Linked DNA regions of Homo sapiens: regions 2, 3, 4 and 5 are each linked to region 1. The links come from fine-mapping of genetic effects on gene expression. A gene starts in region 1. Each other region holds a variant in brackets. All regions are shown on one strand. Distances are from middle to middle.

What was found. PIP is the estimated chance that this variant, and not a neighbour inherited with it, causes the effect.
Region 2: its variant is fine-mapped to the expression of JAKMIP3 in blood mononuclear cells (TOPMed, PIP 0.91).
Region 3: its variant is fine-mapped to the expression of JAKMIP3 in whole blood (TOPMed, PIP above 0.99).
Region 4: its variant is fine-mapped to the expression of JAKMIP3 in spinal cord (GTEx, PIP 0.95).
Region 5: its variant is fine-mapped to the expression of JAKMIP3 in whole blood (TOPMed, PIP above 0.99). The same link has a PIP of 0.9 or more in gastroesophageal junction, prefrontal cortex, skeletal muscle and sun-exposed skin.

What each region holds. Positions count from the first base shown.
Region 1 is chr10:132,062,890-132,068,982 of GRCh38, reverse strand. JAKMIP3 (Janus kinase and microtubule interacting protein 3) reads right to left here and starts at 3,037. Exons shown (of 24, transcript NM_001323087.2): 1 at 2,922-3,037. RefSeq lists enhancers at 738-1,238, 3,513-4,260.
Region 2 is chr10:131,962,464-131,968,556 of GRCh38, reverse strand. It overlaps BNIP3 (BCL2 interacting protein 3), which reads left to right. Exons shown (of 6, transcript NM_004052.4): 6 at 1-873. The coding sequence ends at 33. It also overlaps a transcript of PPP2R2D not described here. Among named protein-coding and RNA genes, the nearest start is that of BNIP3, 16 kb to the left of the region's middle. The variant T/G (reference allele first, on the strand shown) is at 3,409.
Region 3 is chr10:131,942,336-131,948,428 of GRCh38, reverse strand. It overlaps PPP2R2D (protein phosphatase 2 regulatory subunit Bdelta), which reads right to left. Exons shown (of 9, transcript NM_018461.5): 6 at 4,284-4,461; 7 at 2,970-3,134; 8 at 638-899. Among named protein-coding and RNA genes, the nearest start is that of BNIP3, 37 kb to the left of the region's middle. RefSeq lists an enhancer at 2,645-3,474. The variant C/T (reference allele first, on the strand shown) is at 3,575.
Region 4 is chr10:131,855,761-131,861,853 of GRCh38, reverse strand. It overlaps LOC105378565 (a long non-coding RNA gene), which reads left to right. Exons shown (of 2, transcript XR_946487.4): 2 at 487-1,192. Among named protein-coding and RNA genes, the nearest start is that of PPP2R2D, 42 kb to the left of the region's middle. The variant C/T (reference allele first, on the strand shown) is at 2,837.
Region 5 is chr10:132,137,715-132,143,807 of GRCh38, reverse strand. JAKMIP3 (Janus kinase and microtubule interacting protein 3) reads right to left here. Exons shown (of 24, transcript NM_001323087.2): 9 at 5,630-5,689; 10 at 3,229-3,357; 11 at 1,760-1,888. Among named protein-coding and RNA genes, the nearest start is that of JAKMIP3-AS1, 46 kb to the left of the region's middle. RefSeq lists enhancers at 466-1,312, 1,313-2,160, 5,512-6,033. The variant C/G (reference allele first, on the strand shown) is at 3,201.

The DNA.
Region 1 (6,093 bases):
TCCTGATCCAGTCACATCCTTCATCCTGAGCTGGCCGGAGTCACTTTCCCTAGGTTTGAATTCCGGCTTCACTTTGAGGCCCGGTTTTTCTGGAGACCAATTCTCTGTGCCAAGGAGAGGGTTTCCCATGATGCCCCTGCCAGCTGTGCTTGCTTGGAAACTGGCAACCACAGGACATTCCTGATGTCATGTCCTGGGGTCAAAAACCCAAGGCAATCAAGAACTCAGCTCCTGAGAGCCTTCCAGAGGGACCCCAAAGGAAAGTAAGCATGGCCCTTGCCTGCAGCACAGGTTTGATAAATATAAGACGTCTGCAAAGAAAGCAGGCCCAGGCAGCTCCTGGGGCTAAGGTGCAGGACAGGAGACACCTCCAGTCTCCGGCTCCCAAAGCACGTCTACCTCACATCGCTCAAAGCCCAGCTTGGGGTGCCAGACCAACAGGGCTATATTGAGATAAGAAACACCTGCCCAAGAGGTTCATGGATAAGAAACACTTGCCCAAGAGATTCATGGAAGAAGCCTAGGAGGCCAACATAGGCTCTTTCAAAAAGAGTCATCTCAGTGGCTAGTGTCCTGAACTTATTCAATCCCCGTACTAAAGAGGGCCGTTTCAGGGTCCAAATGGAAAATTAACACCACCATCCAGCCACATCCTAGCTTGCCTGTCTGGAAACTCAGGAGTCAAGGAAAAATAAAAAGATATGGCATTGGTCCTGAATGGAATTCAGTTTACAGAAGCCCACAGTCCACACGGAAGCCACAGTGCACACGGAAGCCCACAGTCCACATGGAAGCCCACAGTCCAGACCACGCAGAAACCCACAGTCCACACAGAAACCCACAGTCCAGTCCACACGGAAGCCCACAGTCCAGACCACACAGAAACCCACAGTCCACACAGAAACCCACAGTCCACACGGAAGCCCACAGTCCACACGGAAGCCCACAGTCCACACGGAAGCCCATAGTCCAGTCCACACAGAAGCCCACAGTCCACACGGAAGCTCACAGTCCAGACCACACAGAAACCCAGAGTCCACACGGAAGCCCACAGTCCACACAGAAGCCCAGAGTCCACACAGAAGCCCACAGTCCAGTCCACACGGAAGCCCACAGTCCACACGTAAGCCCACAGTCCACACAGAAGCCCACAGTCCAGTCCACACGGAAGCCCACAGTCCACACGGAAGCCCACAGTCCACACGGAAGCCCAGAGTCCACACGGAAGCCCACAGTCCAGTCCACATGGAAGCCCAGAGTCCACACGGAAGCCCACAGTCCACACGGAAGCCCACAGTCCACATGGAAGCCCACAGTCCAGTCCACACGGAAGCCCAGAGTCCACACGGAAGCCCACAGTACACACGGAAGCCCACAGTCCACACGGAAGTCCACAGTCAAGATCAACCTTCCAAGAACATGTATAGGACACTTACTTCTCTTGGAGGAGCTCGATCCAAAATACGGGGGCAGAGGCACAGCTCTGACTGACAGCTCCCTTGCTGTGGGACCACCACCTGGTCGTTTGGATATTGTTAGTTAGGACCTAAAGTAGTAAGGCCTTCCCAGGGCTGTCGGGAGAGAAGCAGGAGCTCCGTGCATGTTCTCTGCCACAGCGTGCCCTTAGGTTTCACAGGGGTGCCCTCAACTCACAGGAGAGGCAGGGAAACCTCGGGAATAGCAGGAATGCCAATGCCCTCCCCCCACCCTCAGCCTTGGAGAAGGAATGTGAATGTGCCAGGCGTCTTGTCTTCTCCAAGCACATATTGATCATATTGATCTACTCTGTGGGACTCTTAGGGAACCTCATCCAAACGCCAGCCTTTTGCCGGTAATGCTGTGAATGTAAACTGAGGGTCCTTCCTCGGCCCGGCTCACTTTCCTCTTCTGCTGCTCTTCTCGGGAACTGAGGTGGCGTTTTACCACGGACCTGCTCAAAGGCCCGATCCACTGAGAGGACTCTCAAGTCTACTACTCCAGGCTTGGCTTGGAATGAGAAAACCGTTTTGTGACTGGTTCTCCCACACTGTGAACAACAAAATCAACGGCAGCAGCAAGTATTTACATCCCTAGGGTGCCTGCATGGTTTCCCGGCCAGTCTCACTGACATCTCAATAAGCATCAGTACAACAACGTACTGCCAAGTTACCTGTGACACCCTTTCCACCGCAGCCCTGCCAGTCCCAATCAGCAGTGGATTTTCTTTGAACAACTGTAGAAACTGAGGCATGGTGCAATAACCTCAAAGAGTGAATTAGTAAGTTAATAAGCTGTTGTTTCCCAAAAACCTGGAGTTCCTTGCATAAGAAGTTATATCAATGAGTGATGTGTGATTCTTGATTAAGTTTTAAAGAGAAGACACCATCCAATCAATGCGCAGGTAGGTGGTGAGGCCTCAAGCCATAAAGATGACCTATTCTTCAAAAGGAAAACAAGCAGCAAAAAAGTCCAGCCGGTTACCCCACGGAGCCAGGAAGCACCCGGACGCCGCAGGCCTCCCGGGCTGTGCAGACAGCTCTCTGGTGCTATGTCCGTGGGATTCTCACCACAGCCGGCAATACACAGACTCAGCCTGGCTTCCCCAACCCACCCCACCACGGCTGCCGTGCCAACAAGCATCCGCTTTACATATGGGATGGAACACACACCCATGCTTTAAAGGAGAAACCTACTACTGGGAACGCAGGCCCAAGCCTCCTCCAAATGTGTGCATGAGCATGAACGTGAAAACGGATAAATGAAGCATCTTCCTCTGTGATCGTCCCTGCACCCCTCAGAGGACAGACCCCAAACTGTCAACTTTCCAGCCACATACGTGTGCGCACTAAATACAGAAGAGCACCAGGTGGAAAGAGCCTGTGCAGAGACAGCCAAACCGAAACCAACAAAGCCTCTGCAGCAGTCAGAAAATAAACACTCACATTCCAAAGCTCGCTGTCTGCTCCTCTCTCCCATCGCTCTGCTCGACTGTGAGAATCTTTCCCGGCTCGTCCAAGACTCAGTCCGGCTTTTGCGCAAATCAGCTCCGAGCTTCTATGACTCAGCAAAGAGCTCGGCTTTTATTTTTCAGATGGAATTTACCACGCTGTGACTACATCCAGGGGGAGGAACCATTTCCCCGAGCTGTTTCCAAGCAGAGCCCTTGAGCCAGGATCGCCCAAGCTCTCCCTGTGCACCTTAAGGCCAAGCACAGAGGCATCCTCTGAGCCCCCAGCCCAGCTCCCTGCAGGGCGCGAACAGACGCTTCTCGGTGGGGAAGGGGCCCGCAGCTCTGCACGGCCGGGCGGCCGAAGGCACAGCCACGCAGGTGAGATCCTGAAGGCAGCTTGGCTCTATTCAGATGCAGAGGCGGCCTGGGCTCCGGGTTGGCCCGGCGGCAGTCTCACGTGAAAACCAGCGAGCGGCAGAGGCCACGGCTGGGCCATCCCTGCCCTCACCGCCCCCTCGGCTTCCTGGCTGCTCCAGGACCGCGTTCTGGCCGGCTTTCCCTCCTGCTTGGAGAACCCCCTTCAAGATTGCAGAGTGAGCGGGTCAATAATAGGAACGAACTTCCACTCTGAGGGTATCTATTTTAAATGTCAGGTGATAGAAGGGATTTGCACACACTCAACACTGAGGACTGAAAATGCAGACGGGAACCAGACACAGGAGACCAGCAGCATTCCTGTGTGAAGGGCAAGCACGAGAGCTCACCTGGCCCGCCAATCCCACACGCAGTCCATAATCACCGTCCGGAAAAGCCGTGTGACAGCCGCTCTGTAGAAAACGCAGGGTCTGACAGGGTTTCCAAGCAGGAGGCCGCTTAGAGTCCATCTGGGTCCGATTCCATCAAGGCAGCCTTGAGGGCTGCCGGTGCGGGTGGCCTGAAGCTCCTGCCCTGCCCTGTCTCCGGCCACCAGGGCCTGCGCTGAGACTGCATCGGAGCCTGGACCCCAGAGCAGGCCTGCACGCCCAGGTTCTGGGGGTCAGCCTGGGAGGACCCTACATCCCCCCTGCTCCCAGCCCGCTCTGCCTCAGTTCCCTCGCCTGCACCCTGCCTGCCCCCCACAACCTGCCTCTTCTAGTCAAGGCCAAATGTCACTTCACCCCAAAGCTGAGACCGGCAGGCATCACCCCGAGAGGAGCCCACAGAGTGAACGCCGATGATAACATGTCAGAGGATGGCACAGGGCAGGCCAGGACTTCGGGTTACTTCTGCTGTCTGTCTAGATCTGGCCACCCTCATAAGTTAGAGCAAGCAAAAAATTGTCCTGATTAAAACCATGGCCACACGTCTGGCCAAACGTCCAGGGTGATGCAACAACCCTCCAAGGGTCACATGTCCTGACTCGTGTGACGGAGCCGCCCGCTGTCCCTGGTTACCAACCATCGCTGCCTCTATGTCACAGGGGAGGAGGCTGGAGCGCCAAGAGGCCATGCGGCTGCCCCACAATCACATCCCTGTCAGGTCCCGGAGCTGGATTCAGACCCGGAACGGTGGGTCGGAGATCCAGACCCCTCCCGTGTTGCCCTGAAGCAAAGAGGGTTCCCATGCCGGCGGCTCGGGGTCCACGCCCGACCCCGAGGGTGGCTCCTCCTCAGTCGGAGGCAGGCCACGGGGACAACCTTCCTGACGAGGGCAGTGCCCCCTCAGCCCAGCTGTCCTCCTGCTGGAATTGATCCTGGGGAAACAACACAAGGATGGTGTGTGCACAGATTTGACTTTAGTCCAAATACTTTATAGCACCTACCCCGTGCCAGGCGCTGTTGTAAGCCTTTAAATATAACTCACTCAGGGATGCTTACGGCAGTGTTGTCCATAATATAACAGGGAATAATTGGAAACATCCTAGACGTCCAACAGAGGAGTGATTTAACAAGCGATGGGAAACGCACATACGTCCAAATACAATGGGGCCATTTAAAAATGTCCCCAGTCCAAGCTTAACAGAAAGACGTAAACAACCTATTGTTTAAGTTTTTTAAAGTCAGCCATAAAAAAGCTGGTATCGTATGCTCACATTTCTGTTTAAAAAAGTGTGTATAGTATGATCACATTATTTGTTTTTAAAAACGCGTGCCTGTGTGTGTTGCACTCAAGAAAAACAAAGCCTGAAAGCGTAGATACCAAGCTCTAAAGTGGCCATAGCTCCAGGTGATAGGATCTCAGGTGACTTGATATTTTGTTTTGTATCTTTCTGAATTGTATGTATTTTTTTTGTAGAATTGGAAACAATATTTTTAGAATCAGAAAAAACATCTACTTTCATTTCCAAACAGATGCACATGCGTGTATGTGCTTTTGATTCCTGCAGTAAACGTGCCCCTTGCAGACGGTCCGTTCTCTCCCGGAGCCCAGAGGGAGACACTGTCCCTTCCAAATCCCCACGCTGGCTGAGGCGGAGAGCAGGTGGGTGCTGGGCCGGGCTGACACCCGGCGTTCCAGCTTAGGGAGCAGCCTGCTCTTTAAATAGCATCCATTTTTCTAGTTGTAAAAGTGAAATGTGCTCATTGTAGAGAATTTGGAAAACACAGGAATAGATGAATAAGAAAACCATCCTTGCTAGTCCTCAAGAAGCTGAGCTTTGAGCCTCCCAGCCACATTGCCAGCTCCACCCTAATTCTTCCAGATCCCAGAAACCGAGCCCCAGCACCTGGGATGGAGCCAGCACCCCCAGGACGTGTTCTGAGGAAAAGAGGCTTAAACAGCAGGCCTCACTTGTGTCACAGGGTCTGGGAAAACCACGACCTCCAGTGGGTCTCTATGTCTCACGTGGCTGCCTCACCAGGCACCACGAGGCCCAAGTCTGATCCCACAGCCCGTCCCTGGCTTCCCTTTCCCACCCACGGGCAGTTGTCACCTGTCCTTTCTGGGGGAGCTTGGCCACTCCCATGATCACACCCAAATCCAGGGCTCTGCTGCTCCATCGCTGATTCCCAGACCCACCCGTCCTGCTGGCCCGGTGTCTCCATACAATTCCTCGGGGGCCTCTCAGACCCGGCGGGTCCAAAAATAACCTGCCCTGCCCCAAACTTCACTCTTCCTTCTATTATATTGCAGGTCCTGACACAGCCATTCACCAGTTATTATCCAAGCAAAAATATGGCTGCCTT
Region 2 (6,093 bases), 100 kb after region 1:
AGGCGTCTGACAACCTCCACCAGCACCTTTTGATGAAGAACTGGAGTCTGACTTGGTTCGTTAGTGGATTACTTCTGAGCTTGCAACATAGCTCACTGAAGAGCTGTTAGATCCTGGGGTGGCCACGTCACTTGTGTTTATTTGTTCTGTAAATGCTGCGTTCCTAATTTAGTAAAATAAAAGAATAGACACTAAAATCATGTTGATCTATAATTACACCTATGGGATCAATAAGCATGTCAGACTGATTAATGTCTACTGTGAAAATTTGGTAGTAAATTTTCATTTGATATTAGATATAAATATCTGAATATAAATAATTTTAATATACTAGTCATGATGTGTGTTGTATTTTAAAAATTATCTGCAACCTTAATTCAGCTGAAGTACTTTATATTTCAAAAGAATGAATAACATTGATAATAAAATCGCTACTTTAAGGGGTTTGTCCAAAATAAATATTGTGGCCTTATATATCACACTATTGTAGAAAGTATTATTTAATTTAAATGGATGCAGGTTGTCTACTAAAGAAAGATTATATATAACTATGCTAATTGTTCATAATCAACAGAAACCAAGATAGAGCTACAAACTCAGCTGTACAGTTCGTACACTAAACTCTTCTTGCTTTTGCATTATAAGGAATTAAGTCTCCGATTATTAGGTGATCACCCTGGATGATCAGTTTTCTGCTGAAGGCACCTACTCAGTATCTTTTCCTCTTTATCACTCTGCATTGGTGAATTTAATCCTCTCCTTTGTGTTCAACTTTTGTGTGCTTTTAAAATCAGCTTTATTCTAAGCAAATCTGTGTCTACTTTAAAAAACTGGAAATGGAAAAAAAAATAAATCTTTGCCAAATCCTTCAGATTACTGTATTTACATATGGTTTAAAATCAGACGTCATGATAGCTTCTTAATGAAACCAGGACTGGTCCCTATTTTGACATTATCTTTCCTACAGCAAACTTTTTAGAAAGGCTGCCTGCCGCCTTGATGTTTCACCTTTCCACGCTTAATTCGGGTGTTAAATCTAACGTTTTCATTTGTAAAAATCTTTGTTGATGCTACCTTGGAAGCAGTCATCTCTCAGTCTTACATTTGGAGAATGTGGATGGCATGACATCAGAATTCCTTTATATAATTTAACTTCAGAATAGTCTGAGATCATCGAAGCACGATGGTCAAGGGAATTCCGTTTTTGTTTTAGAGCAAATATGTTTGCTGTTTGTCTTTCATCACAAACATCAGTGGAGTTTCAGCACCTTACAGAGCTCAGTGAACCCCCTGGTCACCATCAAAGTTAGCACACAACAAAGCCAACCACGTGTCCCCCTCACAGATGACAATGGCTGAACTCTGAGTGAAACCACCTGTATGGCCGGGCACAGTGGCTCACGCCTGTAATCCCAGCACTTTGGGAGGTTGAGGTGGGTGGATCACCTGAAGTCAGAAGATTGGCCTGGCCAACATGATGAAACCCCGTCTCTAATAAAAATGCAAAAATTAGCTGGGCGCAGTGGCACGTGCCTGTAATCCCAGCTACTTGGGAGGCTGAGGCAGGAGAACCGCTGGAACCCAGAAGGCAGAGGTTGCAGTGAGTGGAGATCATGCCACTGCACTCCAGCCTGGGAGGGAGAACGAGACTCCATCTCAAAAAAAAAAAAAAAAACAACCAGTTGGAGGTACTAAGCTCTGGGACTGGGCCAGTGTGATGGCTCCACACCTGTAATCTCAACACTTTGGGAGGCTGAGGTAGGAGGATCACAAGTCCAGAAGTTCGAGACCAGCCTGGGGGAGCATAGCAAGACCCTGTCTCTACACAAAATACAAAAATTAGCCTCGTGTGGTGGCACACACCTGTAGCCCCAGCTACTTGGTAGACTGAGGCAGGAGGATCCCTTGAGCCCAGGAGTTCAAGGCTGCAGTGAGCCAGGATAGTGCACACGGCCTGAGCAAGAGCAAGACCCTGTTTCAGAAAAAACAACTCTGGGACTGGAGTGCTTTAGACAGATGGGAGACCAAGAATCAAGTTTTCTGGAGGTGTTTTTCGTTAGATTGTAACATTAGACATTTTATTAAAAATGAAACAAGTTTGATGTGTGTGCGTATCTGAATGTTTTTATCTTTGAGGTAGGATAATGGCAGTGTGCCTTCTGAATAGCTTCTGTAAATAACCCTTCTTTTCTACAGTGGTTAATACAAATAACTGCCCATAACACTCATTTTAATCATTAAGTTTATAAAATTAACATTAAGTGATTCTGATATAAAAACATTGGCCACTTGGCCACTATTTACCTGATATTTACTCTGATGCAGACATTTGCCCATACACATCTGCTTAGGGTGTGGAACGTGACGCCGACACGTTGCTTAGAAGGAATGCACATGGCTGCAAGAGAGAGGAGTCGGCAACACCTCAAAAAACTCCAGCCATGCATCTATGCTTTGGACACACAAACCACTTCTAGGAATTCACTCTGGAGACAGACCTAGAAACTTCTACATGCACATGCACAAGGATATAACTAAATACGCAGTATTTATTATAACATGATTGTATTAAAATATATGAAGCAACCGAGGTGCCCACGCATAGAGACTCGAGAGAACGACAGTGCTGCCCTGCAGGGCCGGTGCTTTGCCACTCATGCACCAAGGGGAAGAGCTCGCGATGAGAAGGGATTCCAGGGTATGTGAAGTAAAACACAGTGCAAAAATAGATGTCTCCCTAGCAGAAAGGAAAGAACATTTGGAAGCAGCTCCTTGAAACAGGAAACCTGTAGCAGTTTGAAGACAGCCCCCGGCCAGGCGCTGTGGCTCACGTCTGTAATCCCAGCACTTTGGGAGGCTGGGGCGGGTGGATTGCCTGGGCTCAGGAGTTCGCGATCAGCCTGGCCAACATGGTGAAACCCCGTCTCTACTAAAATACAAGAAAATTAGCTGGGTGTGGTGGCGTACCTGTAGTCCCAGCTACTTGGGAGGCTGAGGCAGAATTGCTTGAACCCGGGAGGTGGAGGTTGCAGTGAGCCAAAATCGTGCCACTGCACTCCAGCCTGGGCGACAGAGCGAGACTCTGTCTCAAAAAAATAAAAGCCCCCTAGTTTTTTTGACAGCCCTTAATGAGTGATGGGGGTCTGTGCCCCTTCAGCTCTGGACTGGCCAACAGGATAAGGAGGGAGTGATGCCAGTGGTGCAGCACCACTTTCTGGGCCCACCCAGCCTTAAGAAACCGGCAGCCGCCACTTCCTGTCTCTGCGGGTGCATGCTCTTGGCGCCCAGCCTCCGTGCTGGGAAGAAGCCACATTGCTCAGTAGAGAGGCCTGGTCAGATAGGATCCAGCAGCTAGCACCCCTGCCAGCCATGTGGCCCCCTCTGTGGATCCTCCAGTGCCAGGAGAGA[T/G]GCCCTCGCTGACAGTCTGGAGCACAGATGAACTGAACCTGCTGAGCCCCGTCCAAACTGCAAATGGGAGGACAAAATACAGGATTATTTAAATATATATATAGTATACTTTATGTGAAAAAAGCTAAGAAAAACACATAACTGCTCATTTGTGCAAAAAAATTAGGGTGAATAAGGCAGAATTAAATGAGATTGGTTACCCCGGGGTGGAAAGAGGTGGAGATGGAAAACGGAAGAGGGTGGAAGGAGTGCAGCTTTTTGTGTAACAGACTTAGAACCACATTAATGCTTCAGATGCTGCCAAATTCAATGAATAACTGTTTTGGGGGGGAATCCCAAATGGAATACCTACAGTAAGGGAACCTCACTGTTATAAATAATAAAGCCATACTGAAGGGGTGGGCTGGTGAGCTAAAGGACCAGAGAACACCATTCGGGGTGGATACTGCAAGGTTAAAGTGACAAAAAAAAAAAAAAAAAAACATAGTAAACTCTTGCTAGTGAATTTGCTTTCCATGGGTTGGCAATCCTGAAACCACAGGCATATTAACACTGTGTGATGTTACACGTAATGACAGCCTGATTTCCCACTGCTGGACAGTCACAAGGAAGGCTAGCACGAAGCCGTGGGCTTGCTGGGTTTGGGTTAGCAGTGAGTCGCGGTTTGAGCCGGAGCTGTGCATGGGGGAGTGTGTCTTTCCAAGTGCCACTCAACAAAAGGGCCTGGAAGCAATGATCCTCCAACAGCTGTGTGCACGGCCAGCCCTGGGTCCCGGTGGTGGTGACGGTTATTTGTCTCAAAAACAAAACAAAAAAAAAACACAAAGTCACCATTAGGCAAATACCAATAACTGCTGATTCGTCGACGGAAACTAAAGTTAGTGGGTTCTTGAGAGGATATTCTCATTGTGTCCCCGCAAGATACTCATTACACCAAAGAAAACAGTAACTCTACAGTGAAGAGACCTGGTAGACACCACCTACATCCTGATTTGATGCAGAGGAGGCCAGATCTCTTCCGTGTTCTTGCCAGAATGCATAATTGCAGTTTAATCACGAGAAAATATCAGGCAAACCAAAATTGAGGGGGAGTCTACAAAATGCCTGCCCACACTTCCCAAGTGCTCGGGTCCTGAAAGACTGCAGCAGAGACTGGAAGGCAGGGAGACAACGAAATACAACGTGGGCGCTTTGGGAGGGCCCTGGACAGGAAAAACCGACACTCGTGAGACAGCCAGGCAGGTGCCAAGGCAGGTGCAGGTGAGGCCACTAGCCCTGCACGGTGTGAGTCCCCATGAGGCTGCAGGACACACCATTGTTAGGGGGCTGGGTGAAGGCTGCAGGATTTCCAAAACCTGTTCAAAATTATTCAAAGTACAACGCTAAGAAGGAAAATAAATAGAAGATACCTTTTTACTAAAAAAGAAAAAAAAAGTGTGGTCCCTGGACTGGGGTGTCAGCGCGCTGCCTGGGGGCTTGTTAGAAAGGCAGAGCCTCAGCGCACAGCCCTGTGGCGTCAGAAGCCGCGTCCGACGTGTGGCAATGCCACCGTGCAGCAGCCAGTGAGGCTCCACGGACGGTGTGGACAGCCCGCCCAGACGCGCGCAGTGAGGACAGCCAGGCGCCCCACGGCATGCACAGGATGCTACCCGATGTGTAGAAACGGGAAACAGGAGTGAATCTTATTTGTGTTTGTATAAAAACTGGAAGTAACCCCCCAAGAAACAAGTATCCAAAATGATCCAGGGGGCCAGAGGCAAGGGCAAGACTTTGTCACCTCCTCTGGGGACTTGTGAACGCTGTACGTATGACCAGTTCACAGCTTCTTTAAGAAAAAACACTTCTAGTAAGAACCAGGGTTACACTGTGTTCAGATATTTAGGTTTGGATAACAAATTTCCCCTGAAAGTTCTTGGAATCATAAATTAGTGTTTCCCATCCTCCTGGAACAGACACACTTAAAAAGACATCCCAACCTTTTTTTGAGATGGAGTCTCACTCTGTCGCCTAGGCTGGAGTACAGCGACACAATCTCGGCTCACTGCAACCTCCGCCTCCTGGGTTCAAGTGATTGTCCTGCCTCAGCCTCCCAAGTAGCCGGGATTACAAGCGTCCGCCACCACATCTGGCTAAATTTTTTGTATTTTTAGTAGAGACGGGGTTTCACTATGATGGCCAGGCTGGTCTTGAACTCCTGACCTCGTGATCCGCCCACCTCAGCTTCCCAAAGTGCTGGGATTACAGGCGTGAGCCACCATGCCTAGCCCCAAAGATAATTTTCTAACAACTCCAAGGCAAGCAGACGGAGCTCTATCTGGACCTCTGATCGGCGGAAGTGCAGCCACCTCTCTGCCTTGGCTGGGCTGCGGTTGGGGGTGGAGCCCAGCAGGCAGTCACGTGGTCTGGGCCTGGCCATCTGCGGGGTTGGTGCCCAGTGCAGGCAGCCCCTGCCAGTTCTGACTGGGTGGTGCCAGTGTTTTGTTTTTGCATCTACACACCAGCGATGGACGGTCCCTGCAAATCTGCAAGGGACCCAGTCTCCAGCTGAGTTTCAGGTCCAGGAACACAGCCTGTTAGAAACGTCCAAGACACGTCCCAAGGATAAGAAGAAAATGGAGAGCTACAGAGCCTAAGACAATGGGAGTTGCAGAATCGAAAACTATTACTATCAGAAGCATTTCCCAG
Region 3 (6,093 bases), 120 kb after region 1:
GAATTCTGAACAAAAATTCTATATAAAAATGGTGCAAGACAATCTTCCATCATCTGAAACGTAACTTTTTGCATAATAAAAAAAACGTAACTCTCAACCACACTAATCATAGCTATCTTTAAAGAATGTATACAAAATAAATTATCAAGGTACTAGAACCATCACATTATAAATTACATTGGTGTTTCAGACCAGCCATGACCACGCTGTGTCTGGGCATGACAGGCAGTGGCTCTGGGGTGTTTTCATCTACTTCTCTCCAGAAGGAAAGGCAGACTGCAACGCGGTCATTCCAGTGAGGTGAATCACTTCCCCACTTCCTTCCTTTTCACTCATTATCAGCATAATAAAAAGTAATACACTATCATTCACTAAGCATTTAACACATAGCCGGCCTGTACCTAGTGCTATACTTCTTGTCTAAATATAAATGGAATGACAAGCTAGGTGAGAAACTTGCTCAGAGATCCTATTTTCTCTACCTTGATACTATCATCCATCAATCAAAAGGTCTGGAAAACAACACCCTATGAGCGTCCTCCTCTGACGCTGGAGGACAGCTCGCCTCCCTCACTGACCTTGCACTCTCGGAAACCAGCAAGCTTGGGGCGACAGCTCATCTCCACGCAGGCCTTACCTATCCGAACCGTTCCAGCAACACTCAAACTTGTCAAAGATGCAGTCGTTCTCATAGAGAGAGCAGAGCTTGCTGCGCAGGTACTCGTGGACCTGGTGGGTCTCCACCGGCCTGCTCTCCATGTTGAGGTCCCACACCTTCACCGACAGGTAGTCTCTGGTCATCATGTACCGCCCACTATGACTGAATTTTACATCGGATATGGATGAAATTATTTCTGAGAAGAAGGACCTACTGCTGGGATCTTCAGGCTCTTCAAAAACTGAAAAACAAAATAAAATGTTTTCAGCTTCTGTTTAAAAATCAGAGAACAAATCATTTTCAAGTTCAAGTAGGAAGTGGCCCCTTCAGAGAGACTCTGGAAGGGCTTGGCCTCAACACTAGGTCTTCTGATCTTTCTGATTCTCTAGGTTTTCTGATCTTCTGTGACTTCCGTGGGCAAGAGCTTCGGATAAGACATTCTAGCACCAGCTATGGACAAGGGATGGGCATGAGAAGCGTAGACGCCCAAGTCTCACCCGGACCCTGAATGAGAATCTCTAGGCAAGGTCCTGGGCACTGCCATCTGTGGGAGCTCCTCGGGGCATCCTGATGTGTGCCCAGGTTCAGCACCACCGCATTCCTGTAGGAGTGTCTCCGCGTCCTCATGGCACCAGGCCCGAGCACGTGAAATTCTATCGCATACACATCACAGGAAGACACAAACAGCATTATATGGTCATGCAGACACAGCGGTCTGTGCCTCTAAGAAACTGCCTGCTTTTTGGAGGGTCGACAGTTTGTGGGTCTGCAGGAGTGACCACCTTGACTGGCAACGCTGTGGTCCTGATTTTAACCACCAAGACGGTCCCGCCGGTCAAAGCCAGCCAGCCAAGGTTTGTCTCCAATACTGAATATACACAAGCTCTACTGTGACAAAACTGGATTCCTATTTTCAGAAAGATCCTCCCGCCTCAACCTCCAGGGTAGCTGGGACCACAGGTGAGCACCACTGCACCTGGCTTGTGCTTCCTTGACCTGAAGCTGCTTTAGGTTTTTTCTCTTTTTTCTTGATGCAGGAGCCTGTGTTTGTCGGCTTAGCATCTGAAATTAACTTGAAGCCAGCTGTGCCGACGCCAAGCATTTACTCAAATAAATCACTCTGATGACAAATAGAACTGGAATCTGAAATTATTTACTCAAGAATTTTATGCTTAAGATACAGGCCAAATGCTACGAAACACTCATCCTCATCGCAGGAATTCTAGTAGAAATACGAATTCTTAAAAACACACTCAACCTCAGGAAAGAGAACAGGCGAAAAGGCTGCTGCACACGGTCCATGGGCACATTCCACCGAGGCACTGGGGGCGCCGCTGCACATGAGCAGCGGCTCAGTCTGGTGGGATTGACTGGCGGCTTCCCCATCAGAGGAAGTCACTGGACGTGTGTCTACCTGCTGGCACTGGAGGAAGGGTCAGCAATGTTTCAGGACACTGGGACACGCTGACTACAGTGCTCTATAAAGTCAAGCCCATTCTTTATGGCTAAAAATAAAAACAAAACCAGAACCTCCCTCACCTAAAAGGAGCTTGAAAGCTCACTGGATTAAAATGCTAGACTTTCAGCTAAGGGAAGTGGCTTCCAATCCAGCCAAGCTCAACATGAACAGGAGCTCATTCCAACAGCTGGGAATGGCCTCCTGTGTGCTGGCGGCCTCAGCCCAGGTCTCACGCACAGAGGCAGAGGCAACGGGTGGCTCTTGGCGGGACTCAGTGCTGGCAGCCTCTGAGGAGACACCCAGGCTCTGGGCAGAAGTGACCCCGCTTCTCGGTGGTGCCAAAAGCACACTCACCCTACAGCCATAAGCCTGTGGGAAGCATGACCTCGAGTTCCACTTATTAGCAGCAGCCTCTGACACAGCCACACTCGGACGGCCCCAGCAAAGGAGGGCTCCCCAGTTGTGCAAAGGCACTTGGGGAACAGGAAGAACTCTCTAAGTCTTTGGAGTGTCTGAAGAACAAGTGGCTCTAAATGAGATGCTTTAAAAGACGCCAGGCGTGACCAGGTGCGGTGACTCACACCTGTAATCCCAGCACTTTGGGAGGCCGAGGTAGGGGGATCACCTGAGGTCAGACCAGTCTGGTCAACATGGTGAAACCCTGTCTGTACTAAAAATACAAAAACTAGCTGGGCATGGTGGCACCTGCCTGTGGTCCCAGCTACTCGGGAGGCCGAGGCAGAAGACTTGCTGGAACCCGGGAGGCGGAGCTTGCCGTGAGCCGAGACTGTGTCACTGCACCGCAGCCTGGGTGACAGAGCCAGACTCCATCTCAACAACAGACGCACTTACACTTGGAGTGTCTGTCGCACAGGGCCGAGGAGCGCATGTCACACAGGCGGATGGTCCCTTTGCTACTGCTGTAGACGAACACGTTGCACTGGTGCGGGTGGAACTCGGCTGCAGTGATGACTTCGGTCAGCTCCTCCATGTTAGCAGGCTTGATGTCCACGATGTCTGGGAGTGCATGGTTAAGGCACAGTGCTCAGCTCAGCTGGTTGTTAATTAGTCTACATTCAGTCACGCGAAATAGGACGCCAAATAATCCACGCAGTGAGGTTTAAGGGATTAGCTATTAAGAAGGCTGGTTACACATCCCGAATTCCAAAGGAGCGCCTGGTAAGGGGATTGGGATGAGCACACTCAGACTACAGCAACGCCCCGGCCCAGGGGGAGACACAGACAAGCGAACACCGCTTTCATCTTGCTGCTATTATTAATGTTATACAGAAAGCCCTTAATAGCAAGATAGTACATACTTAATCATATAAATAGGAAAACCAAGCTAGTACCATCTGTGCAAAATCCCACACTCCCACACAAAACTACAACACAAGAATGCCGCCAAATTCCAAAAGATGCTGCTCTTCCTGACATGAAGAGCTTATTCTGTGTAG[C/T]TAGAACAGATCCAACAGAAATCCTATACAGAAATCCTTCAACTGAAAAAAATAAGAAAGGGCAGAATTCAGCTGTGGGCCAATTCAGACTAGCAGTCCCAGTTTCACCCTTCAAGCTGAAACAACTAAGAAAACCAACATACGACATGGAACCCCAGCTCAAGCCACTGGACAGCAGAGGGAGGACGGCAGGGACCCTGGAGAGGCTGCAGACGAAGCAAGCCCCATGCTCCCGGCTGCTGGCTGGAAAGGGGCCCATGTGAGGAGGGCTGGGGCCACCCAGACTGTGCACAGCCACAGAAGAACACAGGTTCTAACTGGAAGCTGCTGCTCAGATGGGTGATTAAACACTGCTCTAACCTAAGCCAGTATTTTCTATTATTCATTAGCAAATTTAGAAAAAAAAAAAGAACACATAATGTTGGTTTTTCAAATGTAGCCTATTTAAAACTGCCTCTGATTAAACCAGGCAGGCAGTGGACTTCAGGTAATTCCCATTATACAGATAACTTTTTCCCAAAGGTAGAAAGAAATTTGTATTTTTAGGGACAAACATTTCAAATCACAGAGAACTTACATCACAGGCTGCTGTGCAGTGATGGTATTTACAAGACTAGACTCCGAGATACAGGTGTATAAAGGGACGAGAGAAATTACTATCTAAAGAGCACCCTCGGGAAGACGCCAGTGTCCCTCTGAGGAAGGATACTAAAGCTTCTATCTGTGATTTCTAAGTGCCATAAATTAATTCTCAGGTCATCTGCAGAAAGATATGTTTCATGATCACTATTTACTGAAATGGAATTTATATGATATGTGTGAGCATTTGCAAAAATTCGCCGTGGACTCGCTTCTACCATAAGATCCATGGGCTTCAATATTGGGACCTAAAAATGGAAGGAAATAGGAATTCAAAACAAAGATCACAGCAGCACATAATTAGAACACTTATAGTAGATAACGAAAGAGGACAAGTTTATATTCATGGCTAAGTAATAATTCTGTACAGGCAATACCCCCAAATAACCAATTAGCAGAGTTATGAAAATATGCTACAAAATGGAATACTGTCTATTCCAAGTCTTCCCCTTGCTTCCATTACCGAGGTCGACATGTTCCTGCTGAAGAGAAGATCAGCTGGCAGGGTAACAAACTGCCCAGGCACCGAGGCCTGCGGCTCCCTCTCCTGTGTGTCCTCCAGTGGCCACACTGAGGCGCTGGACAGCAAAGTCCTCCTGGGTGGCTCAGCTGCACCCCTCCCTTTGTCCTCTCCTTGCAGCTAGATGCACACACCTCTTCTCACTGCACTAGGACTATGCTTCTCGGTGCAAACCCCACAAACCTCCACTGGCTCCAGGTACTGGCAGGGTGCACAGCAGGGTGCTGGGGAGCTGAGGATATTCCATTTCTTGGTCTGGGGCTGGCTACATGGGCATGTGCACCCTACAAACATTCATGGAGCTGGTCACTTATAGGGCAGATGTCTTATCTGGAGGTATGTATTATATATTACACTTCACTTGAGGTTAAAACAAAAAGTAGAAGGTACCTCCCGCCCCCATCTCTGTGTTGAGTGCTGTGGTCAGGGAGGCTTCCTAGGGAAGCCCAATTCGCACAGAAATAGAAAGGACAGAGAGGAGTGGGCGCTGGCTGCAGGCCGCCTATGGTCAGAGGTGAGAGCTCAGGCGTGAGGAATAGCATCACACATGAAAAAAGGAAAAAGGCCTGTGTCTCACTAACATCCAGCTGGAAGAAAAACATAAGCTTTAAAATCAAAACAAAAAATTAATGATAGTATTTTTTGTTATTCTTGTAATTAGAAACCAAAAGGGAGAGCCTTGAAAGCTTAGGGGAAAAAGAAAAGCTCTCAACTGAGTCTTGTCTGGCTGAATTCTGTAAAAAACCAACTTGGAAAAGTGTGTGTAGGGAGGCTTCCCTCATTTTAACCCAGGTAGTGCTGACCACACCCTTGGATTCTCTAGAGCAAGAAGAGTCAGTTCTACCAAGTTCAGGCTTAAAAACACACACCTACCCCAATCCTCTAACAAATTTCCCATTAATCAAAACATATGATAGCTGCAATACTTACAAAGATTCCTTCTTTTATTGAAAACATTTTAATTTGCATATAAAATAATTTGCTTTCATTTTTAGAGATGGGGTCTGGCTATGTTGCCCAGGCTGGTCTTTGAACTCCTGGGCTCAAGTGATCCTCCCATCTCGGTCTCCCAAAGTGCTGGGATTACAGGTATGAGCCACCATACCTGGCCAAGATTTCTTCTTTTAATTATATCCCTTTTCTGGCACTAAAATAATTTAAGAGCAAAAATTTAAAAACAGCAACATGTCTGACTCTTACCCAGTTAGGCTCAGATACATAAATAGCCCACTCTGAACTGTTAGAGAGGTAAGATCTCAAATACCGACCTAAGTCAATGTACAGAATTACCTGTCTGTGGTCTCTTCCCCATGCACCAACTAATGAAATAACTAGACTTCTCACACACCTTCAGTAGGGC
Region 4 (6,093 bases), 210 kb after region 1:
ACTTTCATTTTTTTTTACTTGTCCATGTGTTATAATCACTTAATACATTGTTGCTATTATTATTTTATGCCGTTATTATTATTATTTTTTTGAGATGGAGTCTTGCTCTGTTACCCAGGTTGGAGGGCAGTGGTGCTATCTTGGTTCACTGCAACCTCTGACTCCCTGGTGAAAGCGATTCTCCTGCCTCAGCCTCCAAATTAGCTGGGATTATAGGCGGCTGCCACCACACCTGGCTAGGTTTTGTATTTTTAGTAGAGACAGCATTTCACCATGTTGGTCAGGCTGGTCTTGAACTCCTGATCTCAGGTGATCCACCTGCCTCAGCCTCCCAAAGTGCTGGGATTACAGGTGTGAGCCACTGCACCCGGCCTTGAACAGCTATCTTTTAGATCAATTAAAAATAATGAAAACAAATGCTTTTATTTAACCTTCATTTACTCCTCCTCTGACACTGTTCCTTTCTCTTTCTTCATTTATTTTAAGGATTTCATTAGTCTTATTTTAAGGATTGGCCATAGGATTGTGGAGGCTGCTGGTCTGAAATCTGCAGGGTGATTTGCAGGCTGGAGATCCAGTGAGGGGCTGGTGTTGCAGCTCGAGGCCGAGGGCCACCCTCTGGCAGAGCTCCCTCTTCTCCAAGGCACCTCAGCCTTTTTTCTATGAAGGCCTTCAGCTGATTGGCTGAGATCCACCACGTCCCAAACGGTAACCTGCTTTACTCCAACTCTACTGATCTAAGTGTTAATCTCACCTAGAAAGTACTTTCACAGAAACAGCTAGAACAATCTTTGGCCAAATGTCTGGGTACTGTGGCCTTGGCGAATTGACACATAAAGTGAGCCATCCCAGGGGCCGTAAGCAATGGCGCCCCCAAAGGAAGGCTCCGTGAATGTGCAGGAGAGCAAAATCCTTGATGTGAGACCTGAGCGGAAAGTTGAGCAGGTGCAGCTTCAAGAAAGGAGGCTGAGACCGGCAGGCTTGTCTGTGTGGAGGAGAAGCATTTGCAGATGGTGCGTGTACACAGAGCAACACCTGCAGAAATGCAGGGAGGTCACAGGTGAACGAGGTAGTGTCATGAAAACCTCAGTCCTTCCCCTATGGATGTGTGAACGGGATGCCACCTAAATAGAATTTCTAAAGAGATGTTTTCCATTTTCTTTTTTGAAATAAAAAGAAGTATTTAAATTCACATCGAGGAATAGTGTCTGAAAATAGTTGAGAATGTTTTCTAAAGAACAGTGAGCCAGGAATCACACCTTATCAGATACTTAGATCCCAACAGAGCCGATGGAATCCTGACGGCATGGTTTTGGCCCCAGGAACATGCAAGAAGAGCTGCCTGGAGTGGGTCCAAGTTCCAGGGGAATTTCAGGCAGCTCAGCGGGAACTGGGGGCTTGTATAACAGAAGGTGCTGGCATGATGGGCGATGAAGGAAAGATCCAGAATCCTGTATCGCACCATGCATAAAAATAAACCCCATCGAGAATGAAGAGTTGGATGTAAAGTGTGAAAATATTAAAAGATACCTAAAGATAGCATTCTATACCCTTGGGATGGGAGAGAGCTTCTCCCATAAGACGGGATATCTAAAAGCCATAAAGGGAATCAGACTTTGTCTTATGAGGTGCAAAATTTCCCCCTTCGATTATTTGCTTCTGGTACATTTTGCAACATTTAAACAAAAATTTTAAACAAAAAGTGAATATCTCTTATATTAAAGCGTTCTGACACCATGATAAAAAGACATCAATAGTAAAGCAGAGAATATGGAAAGGCATCCCACGGAACAGGAGACACAAATGGCTGGTGAAGAGAACAAAACAGGCTCCTGCTCCCAGCAGTCAGGACGTAGCTGTGGTGTGGAGGCTGCAAGTCAAGCCCAGCAAAGGTGACTGGGTGTCTAGGGACCAGGTTCCTATGCAGGTAAAGATGGCCAGTATTCAGTGGCTGGGGATCCCCAGACCAAAGCAATTTGTCAGCTCCATGGGAGTCGTGCAGGTGTGACTGGCTATCAGACTGCTGTGGAACGAGGCGACTGTATCAAGGTCCCCAGGCTCTAGTTACTTTAGGAGACAGCCTGGTGGCCAAAGAGAACTGGTTCTGTCCACCAGGTCACTGGGAGGGTCCTGGGCCCAGAAAAAGGCTTGTTCATGAAACTGCTTTCCAAGACAGTCACACTGGGAAAAAAATGTCTCTAAAATTCTGGTTCTTGAGCCATTTCATGAGGAGCTGAAGTCCTAAAAAAGGGATGGAGTTTGCAGTGACTCGTTGCAGTGACTCATTGCAGTGCCTCGTTGCTGTGACTTGTGAGGCTGAGTGGGCATCGCTACCTGCATACCTCTCCCCAGACTCCGTCAACCACCTAGGCTGAAAGCTGTTCTGATGGGAAGATTCCATCCCAAGCCCCTGGTGCCCTCCCCACTGGAGGATTTTTAGCGAGATGAGAGGCTGAGCCAATTCTGGACCAGCCTGGACAGCATCCCTGTGGATGACCTGAGACATACTCAGCTGTCCCCACTGGCCGGTCCTGATTCATCCCCAAGACTCTGAGGAAGAAACTCTGCACAGCTGACTGCTGCTTCATGTCCTCCCTCAAAACTACGTTTTTGGTGTTGCCACCCTCCTCCTGGCCATGTGGGTCTCCCACGTTCTCTGCTGCCGTCCAGCAGGTGACCCTGGGAGGGCTTCAGTTTCCCTTCCAGTGCGGTGGAGTCGCCTTAGCCTGATCTTTGCAGGGACCCCATGGCCCCACCCTTTGCCCTGCCTGCAGAGGGCGCCGGCCGAAGGGCCCGAGCACCTTTAAAGCCTGCCCTGAGAAACACCCGCCTCGAC[C/T]GCTGTGGCTTGACACGCCTGGCTCACACAGCGTGAAACGGAGGCCTTTGGCCTACTTTAAAGAAAAGGGTGGATGTTTGGGGAAGAAAATGAGGTTTCCTGAAGTCTCCAGCCCCAGTCTCGATGCCGGAAACCTGCTCGTGTTTCAGTATCCGATGCCCCGCCCTCCTGGGCACCACTGCCCTGCTCTGCGATGAGCAAACAGTTGGTGCCTTCTGTGTGCAGCCAGGATTTCTCTTTCACCCTCCTCCCGACCGGCTGCCGGCAATGGCGCTTTGGCCCCACTGCTGAGGGGCCGCACTGCCGAGGGGCCGTCGAACCTGTATGGATCTAAGACCCATCACGCCTCCCGCCGTCACTCAGGGGTTGCGGCATCATGACCACACGCTTCAGAAACATTCTCTCTAAAAATTTGCCCCACATCTCTCCTGCTCAGCATTCCTTGGACTTGAACAGCTATCAGGAAGGTCCCTGTTCCCCCTACTCCACCCACTCACCATGCATTTGATTCTCTGAAGTCACTCCAGGCCCTTGGGGAGGAAATGGGGCGCAGTATTGTCTCATCCTGAAACCGGCTTAGAGCCTCCTGATGGGTTTGCAGCAGGGCCAAATCTGTTGAGACAGCTTCCTCCCACTCCGTGGCTCCATCCGTCAACACCAGCATCCTTTGTCTGGGTGTGAATGAGAGCCGGGAACGTTGGTCCTCGCTCCTGTTCTCGGGTGGCACGGTGGCGGCTGAGGCTGGCCTCCTGTCCCAGGCTTTAGAGATCGTGGTGCTGGCTTTGGAGTGGGCTGTGGCTGAAGGCTGTGCTGCCCCTGCCTGAGGACCAGATGGGGATGGGACCTCCACAGTCACTCCCCTGGGTGCTGCCAACCAACTCAGCATGGCCTCATGAGGACTCAGGGTCCTGTCCCCGCCCCCCCGCCCCTTGCCCTGTGGCCCTGGGCAGCCGCCTCAGTCAGAGGCAGGCTCTGAACCACTGCACGCTGACAATGAACTATACTAAGAGACCTGTTCGGGATGGGGGTGCCCAGGGCCGCCCCGGATGAGTCTCCGGTTTACGCATCTGCATGGACTTCTCAGAAAAGGCCATGGCTTCACCCCTCAGCACCCCCGACTCATGTGCCCTGCAGGTCCACGGCCTCAGTTTGACTTGCTTCTTCTGGCCATGCTGGGTCCATATCCTGCCCCAGGCGTGCACCCAGGCTTCTCCTCCATCTCTTCCTCCACACCAGACTGGAGAGTACCACTGGAGTTGGCAGAATCATGTCCCCAAGGATGCTGCTGTCCCACTACAGGACCTATAGATATGCTAGGCTATGGGGGGCCATGGGGGGTGCCGTGAGGGGCTCAATATGCTCATCAGCTGACCTTACCCGACGGGGAGGAGCGTGGAGAAGCCGAGGGGCTCAGAGCCAGGGAGGGCAATGTGAGGGCTGGGCTGGATGCTGCTGGCTCTGAGGACGGAGGCAGCTTCCTTCTAGAAGCTGGAAGGGGCGAGAGAAGGGATTCTCCCCTGGATCCTCTAGAAGGAACCAGCCCTGCCAGCACCTGGACTTTAGCCCAGAGAGCCCTGTTTCACTCCGTACGGACCCCTGGGGTGTGAAGAAAGATGCCTGTGCTGCTGTGAGCCACCAAAGTACGTGGCGGTTAGTTCCAGTGCCACAGGAAACGCGCATCGGCACCACCAAACAAAACACCAGGGCTGTGCCCGGCGCCCAAGGCCAGGTGAGATCCACTGTCTCCCTGGCTGGGCCTGGCCGCACCTGGGGCCGCTGCACTCCTGCTGCCCATCTCCACGTGTTCTGCTGGCTTCTCTCTCCCTGTGGCTGCCCGAGGCATTGATCTGAGCTCACGCCTGCCCTGACGGGTTTCTGGCTCACAGACCTCTACTGGCCAATCTCCACTGGCCTCTCTAAGTTCTGAGGCGTCTCTGGAGTGTCTTCCGCCTGCTTGCCTCTGGGAATCTGAGCTTTTCCTTCTGGATTCTTCTGCCATGGAGCTTACTCTGGGGCCACCATAGCTGTGCTCTGCCTACCCCACCAGTATTGGGGCTGTGAGTGTGGTTTAAGGGTCATTAACTGAACAATACGCAGCATGGGCCCCCACCCAGGCCATCTCCACGCAGCTGCCCGCGGGGCAGAGTTCAGGTCACTCCGGGGCTCAACACCCTCCTGAGGCTCCCATCTCAGACTCGGCCTAAAGCCAAAGCTTTGAAGGCCCACAGGGCCCTGCCCAGCCTCCCCCGCCCACCCCGCTCCTCTGATTGATTTCCCTCCCCTCTCTGCTCCCTCCTCCCCCAGGCTGGCTGCCCAGCCTTCTGTAGCCTGCACGTTGTAGGGCCCCAGGGCCTTCGCACCTGCTCCCTGCCTGGAAAGTCCCTGGGGTTCTGGAGGCTGTTCCTCACACTCCCGGGAAGCCTTTGCTCCTTTCCCTCCTCAGGAGGCACCACCCCGACCTGGGCACAGCTGTGACCATGGGCCCTCCTGCTCCAGCCTGTGAGGGCGACACCTCGCCCGCTCCTGACTTTCCAGGGCAGGAATGTTGGGGGTCGGTGACATTCAGAGTGTCCCTCTGGGGTTACAGACACCCAAAGATGTGCCCAAAGACACTGCCAGTCACACGCTCCGCCAGGGTGGGCACAGCCGGTCACAGCTCTTGATTTCCCCGGTGGAGATGCCCGCACCTGCATTTCCAGGGGGTCCAGCCTCACCCTCCTGGGCTCTACCCCACCACCGATTCCACCCACCTGTGCTGTTCGCTGTTGGCTTCTGCCCCAGAGCACCAGGGGCACCGCTGGCTCCTGCCGCTGCAGCTTCTGTGCTTCTGGGAGGCGTGGCTGTGGGAATGGGCTTTCAGCATGAAGGGTGCTTTGGTCTCTGTGCAGGGATGGGCACTGACAGGACAGGCCTCGGGGTCCTGGAGGGAGGAGCCACTCCCTGGGGACAGGCGGGCCATGGATGGGCCTGGTCCAGGGCATGGGCTCTGCCAAGGCCAGCGTCCGGAGGTGCTGGCTGTCCCAGAAATGCTGTGTCAGCCCTGAATGGGCCTCCGCTCGTCTTCCCCATAGCCCTGGGAAGGCAGACTTTTAAACTGGCCCCCAGGTGCCCGTCCTTGCAGGGCACACACCTTCCCCCTGTCATCCAATCACCACAGTCCAGAGGCTGCTGGGGAGGGATTCTGCAGGTGTAATGAGGGCCCTTGCTCAGTGAACCTTCAATGGGGGCATGTGCTGGGCCCTGAGCTGGTCAGGTGA
Region 5 (6,093 bases), 75 kb before region 1:
CTCAGGACCGTGGCAGGGATGGGCCCACGTCCATGTCTTCAGACGCCTGTCCTCTCCTGCCCCCTTCCTTATCCTGAGGCTTCCTCGATTTCCACAGTGAGGAGTGACATTTCCAATTATAATACAGAATCAGACTGTGGGATGCCGGCTAGTCTATTTTCTTCATTAATCTTTTCTGTATCTTCTAGTTTTTAAAATAACCATGCAGCACTTCTCGGCATCAGATTTTCCTCTGATTCTAAATGACATTAAACTTTTTTTTACATGCAGTTTGGACATTTTTACTCTCTAAGCAAAGCTTCTGAGTTCTTTGCTTCCATGTGGCCCCCGAGCAAATGTTTCTCTGGCACCCGACAGGAAAAAGGGAAGACAGGATGCTTTCTCCAGCTCCTCCAGCTCCTGGCGAGCTTGGCCAGGAGGATGCGGCTGTTGCCCCGCCCCCGCTGTGAGGGAGAAAGGCTGGGCCCATGAGGCTCTGGGATGTCTCGGGGCTGCTGTGCTTTATGATGCTCTGAACCGAGGCCTTGACTTTTTCCTTTCTCCAAGGGTCATGCAAAAATTAAGTCAAAGTGAAAGAGGCGATATTTAAAGTCCCCAGTTACGGAGACAAATCTCTCCGAGCCTGAGGAGGGGACGCCCCCTCCAAGGCCAGCCCCCCCCACCCCGACTCAGGACAGGAGGAGGGCACAGAGGGGTGGAGCTCTCTCTTAGTTTTCACAACAGACGTCCCCAATGAGGTGCCAGGAAGGCAGGAGGGAAACCAGCCACGTCACCAGGGCGGTCTGGGTGGACAGAGGATGAGGCTGGCGGCTCCCTGGGGCACTAGCGTGGACCACGCTGGGGATGCTCTGTGGACACTCTCCCCTCGCCCCAAGAGGTCCGTCCCCCACCCAGCTCAGCCACCCTAAGTTGCAGAATTGCCAGACACTGGCATCTCTGGCCCTGCAGGGTGGTTTTGGGGTGGGGAGGCCAACGGGAACCCCACACCCCACAGCTGCCTGCTCTGGAGAACCCCTCAGCTCCCCCGGAAAGCAGCCCGTCTCGCTGTGAGGGGTACCAGGTGCAGGTCCTCCAGCGGCTTCCCCTCCGAGCCTCAGTAAGGGAGGGTGGGGCGGCAAGAGGACCCCCGACCCATGGCCCACGCTCTCCCCACGAGGCCTGGTGCCTGCACTGCCCTCCACGGCCCGCAGAGGGCACCCGCCAGCCACACTGAGGCCTTTCCTGGGGGACGACGCTAAGGTGAGCCAGGGAAGTGGGCGGAGGGACACGGCTGCTGGGGTGCTGCCCAGTGGGGAGGCCGGGGGAGAGGGGCCGGGGCCGGGGCCGGGGCAGGCACAGCCTGTGTGAGCTCAGCCTTTGAGGATGAATGACCTCCACAAGTTTCAACACCGAGCTCGATGCTGCCACGGGCCATCGCCATGCTGCCAAGAGTGGAAGAGGTGGTCTGGAAGGAGGCCCACCCTGGGCGCTGTGGGCCCCTGCCACCACTACCACCCCGCCTCCCCCAGGACCCTTACTCACACCTGTGCCTGGCACCGCTCTGGGCCAGTCCCTCCCACCTGGGCCAACTCCCAGCACCGGGATCCCCAATCCCTGGTTTTGATCGGCTTCCATGGGCACCACCAGGACTGCAGGCAAGGGCAGGAGAGGAGGGGCCCGGGCCCAGGAGGGCTAGTGAGGGGGGTGTCCCAGCCCAGGCCACGGGGTCAAGCGGGAAGGCACGAGGGGGGCCGGAACGCGCGGTGGAAGTCACGTAGACCTTAACTTCTCGCTCTGCGTCCAGCGTCCCTCCAACCTGCTCCTGCAACAAAGCGTAGGCACGCTGCAGGGCCTGGTACTCCATGGTCAGCTGCCGGAACCTCAGCTCCGTCTCCTCCTTGGCCATGCCCTGGAGAGACACGGATGCCACACACGCACAGAGACACAGTGTCAGTAGCCAGCACCTCCTCCGATGGCGGGGCCCCGGGGCTTCCCTTCTCCCCAGATATCAAATGGTGTATGGGGGGGTCTCTCTAGCAGCATGAGGGAGGGGACCTGCTCCAGTGTGCAGGGAGGGGCGGCTGCCTGGGGACTCAGTGCTGTTTGGAGAAAGGTTTCCCTGGGGAGGGGAGCACCGAGCCCTGGGGTGGGAGCTGAGTCGGCTGCACGGCTGAGGACAGGGTGAGCCTGCTGGGCTGGTGGCCATGGCCAGGGGCTCAGCTGGGGCTCCTGCTTGCTAGCCAGGCTGCCCTGACCCAGCAGACCCTCTGTTACCAACCAGGCCTGCACACGCTCTGCTCTGCTGAAACACGTCCTGGGAAGAAAGCTGGGCTTTGTGAAGGGGGTAAAGTACCCCAGGCAGCACGTCTCCTCCCAGGTGCACTCTTGCAGGCTCACCCTGCTAGCTGCAGTGCCCCCCGTCACCCCAGGGAGAAGACAGGTGAGCCTGCTGCTGCCTTCAAAGGGTCCCGGTGGACCCCCGGGGCTGGAAGGGTTGGCCACGTCTAGGAGTGACTGAGCCCAGAAGCCTTGGCCTGGCCCAGTTCCCCTGCCCAACCCTGCACCTGAGGCTGTGAGAGGATGTCTTAGATCCCTCAACAGGTCTATGGCCATTGGGCCACCCTCCAGGGTCTGCCACGGGAGGCCCAATCCTTGGCTGTGCCATTGACTGCAGACCCCACTCCTTGTCCCACAGCCACAGGGTCTGGGTCCCACAACACCAAGCCCCGACCTGGTGCTGAAATGGCTGCCTGCGCCTGAGGGTAGCCGTCCTTCTGGAAGAAGGGGCTGGTGGGCAGACACACCTGTGCTGTTATCAGAAAGAAAACTCCTGCTCAACACCCCTCACCCTAATGTGCTCTTGGCACTGAGACCAAACTCCCTGATGAGTGGTTCAGACCCTCCTGGGGAGGCCCCTTAGGAAGGGAGAGCTCACCGTACCCCTATGCAGAAGGGGCGTAGGCTCAGTGGCAGAAGGAGGCATGGTTTGGCCTTCATGGGAGCAAGAGCGGGCCTCAGCCCACACCCCAAGCCATGTCATGGGAGCTTCTCACCGTGCCCGAGTCAGCTATCAGCGGGTCAGTGCCAGTGAGGGCCGCGAAGGGCTTCCCCGTGAAAAGCCGGCAGCCCATGCCCAGCCAAGCCCAGGACCCGGCAGGAGACCCTCGTTACCTCCTCCAAGCCCAGGACCCGGCAGGAGACCCTCGTTACCTCCTCCAAGC[C/G]CAGGACCCGGCAGGAGACCCTCGTTACCTCCTCCAAGTCATCGTCCGGGGTGCACGGGGTCTGGTCCGTCCTGTCTGTTTGGTAAGAGACGGAGGAGCCGTCGGATTCCAGGGAAGCCTCTTCGTCGTATCCAAAGAAGGTCTCCACAACCACCGGCTTGTGACCAAAATGCGACGTGTCAGTTCAAACCAGACCCAGGCACAGCCGCCTCCTCCCGCCGCCTCCTCCCGCTGCCCAACGGTGGGGGCCGCAGCCCCACCCTGCGACACACTCCCATCTCTGTCCCTGGCACAGGCCGAGGAGGTGGCCTGGGTGTGAGGGGCGCTCTATGGCAAGGCTGGCAGGGCGGGTGGGGAAGGGGCCTGGAGTCCCGTGGGTGAGCGGGTCCTGGCCCTGCCCTTGGTGGTGGGGAATGAGGCCCTTCGTGGGGCACCGTCCCTGCGGTTCCCTGAGGGTGGTACCCGGGTTAACAGAACCGACGATGGGTGCCTTCCCTGTGTGATCTCATTCCCAGTGATGCATTTCTGTTCCATTTTTTAAAGTTTCAGTCCTTGACTGATTGGAATACAAACAAAAACGGGGTCCTCCGCCAGCTGGTGTGAGAGGCCCTGCCTTTGGGGACCCTCCAGGTTCACCCCGACGTCTGCATCTTTAGGGCCCCCTCACCCCTGCCTTCAAGAATCGAAGAGGGACTCATCTGGGTCCCCTTCAGAAGTGTTACAAAATGGAAAGCCCGCCATCTTCTTCAGTCCCTTCTGCCGTGGCCACAGTGGCCTCCAGGTCTCCTCCCAGTTCTTCTGCCAGAACCTTCCAGCAAAACTCCCTCAGGGACCCCAGGGCCACCCGACTTCCCCTACTCCCCGCCAACCACTGGCCCCTGTCCTGTGTGCCTCCCCACACCCTGTGTCCTCCCTTCACAGGGCCAAGGCGTCTGCTGGACACTTCCAAATCCCAGAGGGGTCCCGAGCGGGGAGAGCCTGGACAGCTCCTCCTCTCCACCTTTCAGAGGGCAAGTGTTTGTGACCGAGGAGCATCTCACAGTCTAACAGCGAGAAAACACTGCTGACAGCTTACAAGCCACACACACACTCACACTCACACATACACACTCACATACTCTCACACACACTCACACATACACACATGCAGACACATATACACTCACATGTACACACAAACACACACACACACTCACACATACACACTCACATACTCATACACTCACATACTCACACACGTACAGACGCATATACACTCACATGTACACACATACAAACACACACACATACACATACACACTCACACACATACACAGATGCATATACACTCACATGTACACACATACACACACACACATACACACACAGATGCATATACACTCACATGTACACACATACACACACACACTCATACACACACATACACAGACACATACACACATGTACATACACACTCATACTCACATACACATGCACACACACACAGATGCATACACACACATGTACACACATACACGCACTCACACACACATACACATACACACACACACACACACACTCAACATAAAGCAGGAGATGAGTTAGGTCCTTTGGCAGCTGCTCCAAAGCCTCCCTTAATAAAAATCATAGGTTTATCACAAAGGATTCTACTGTAGAGAAATGATGACAGGTGTTCACATTTCCTGGGGACGTGGGTCTGCCCTGTGGGGCCTGTGGATGAGGCTGCCACAGCCTGCAAGTGTGGCCGAGGACGGTGAACGGCAGGACAGGCGAGCGTGGGGTGTGTGGCACAGCCAGGATGGGTGAGTGTGAGCAGCCTCAGCCGCCCGTCCTCAGAGCCGTGCATCCCACAGGTCGTGGGGACTCGGACCCTACACAGGCAGTGAGGACACCAGAGCCGGCACCTCTTCATTGCTAGTGTTGCTGGTATGGTTGTTACCAATTCCTATCTTCTCTTGGAAATTTGAAAGAAACAAGTTTATTAAAAATGATAAACAGAATATTTTCTTTGGGTCCTATTTTGGTCATTTCACAGTAACAATTTTTAGAAATAATAAAATTGTTTTTTCATCTCCAAAGACTGATTCCTACTAAGCACACGCCAGCACGCTCTCCACACACACCAGCGCTCTCCACACACGCGGGCGCGGTCCTCGGCACACACACCCAGCGCCCTCCACATACACCGGCGCACCCCTCTCCGCACACACCCGGCGTACTCTCCACACACGCGGGCGCGGTCCTCTCCACACGCACCCGGCATACTCTCCACACACGTGGGCGCGGTCCTCGGCACACACACCCAGCGCCCTCCACGTACACCGGCGCACCCCTCTCCGCACACACCAGCGCTCTCCACACACGCGGGCGTGGTCCTCTCCGCACACACCCGGCGTACTCTCCGCACGTGCCGGTGTGCTGTTCCTTACCTTGGGAAGTTTTGCCATTTTCTTTCTTTGCTTCCGGAATCTTAACAGCTTGTCCCGCTCCTGCGGAAGCCAGTTGAAGAGGTTGTGTAAGTGGTAGAGCAGCTCCACCGGTTTCAGTCCACGGTTTACTGCCCGTGTGCCATCATTTGGATGACAGGGAAGACGGTGTCTGGGCTGGCTTGTCCCCACACCACAGCGGGAGGCCCTGGCTCCAGCTCTGCTCCTCGGGGAGCTCCTGTCTCCAGGGTGACACGGACGGCTCCCCAATTAGGTGGGCTCTGAGCTTGTCTTGCTCAATGGTCTACCAGCTCCCCTTCTAAATGCGTCCAGGGGCCACACGGGGCAGGTGACTTGAGGGGCACACAGTTGTGGGAAGCTGGAAGGGGACTCATGGCCAGGGCCCCTCCGGACCCTGCAGGGGTGGCGTCCACATCTGTGTGGGGACTGGCGCCCTTAAAATACTA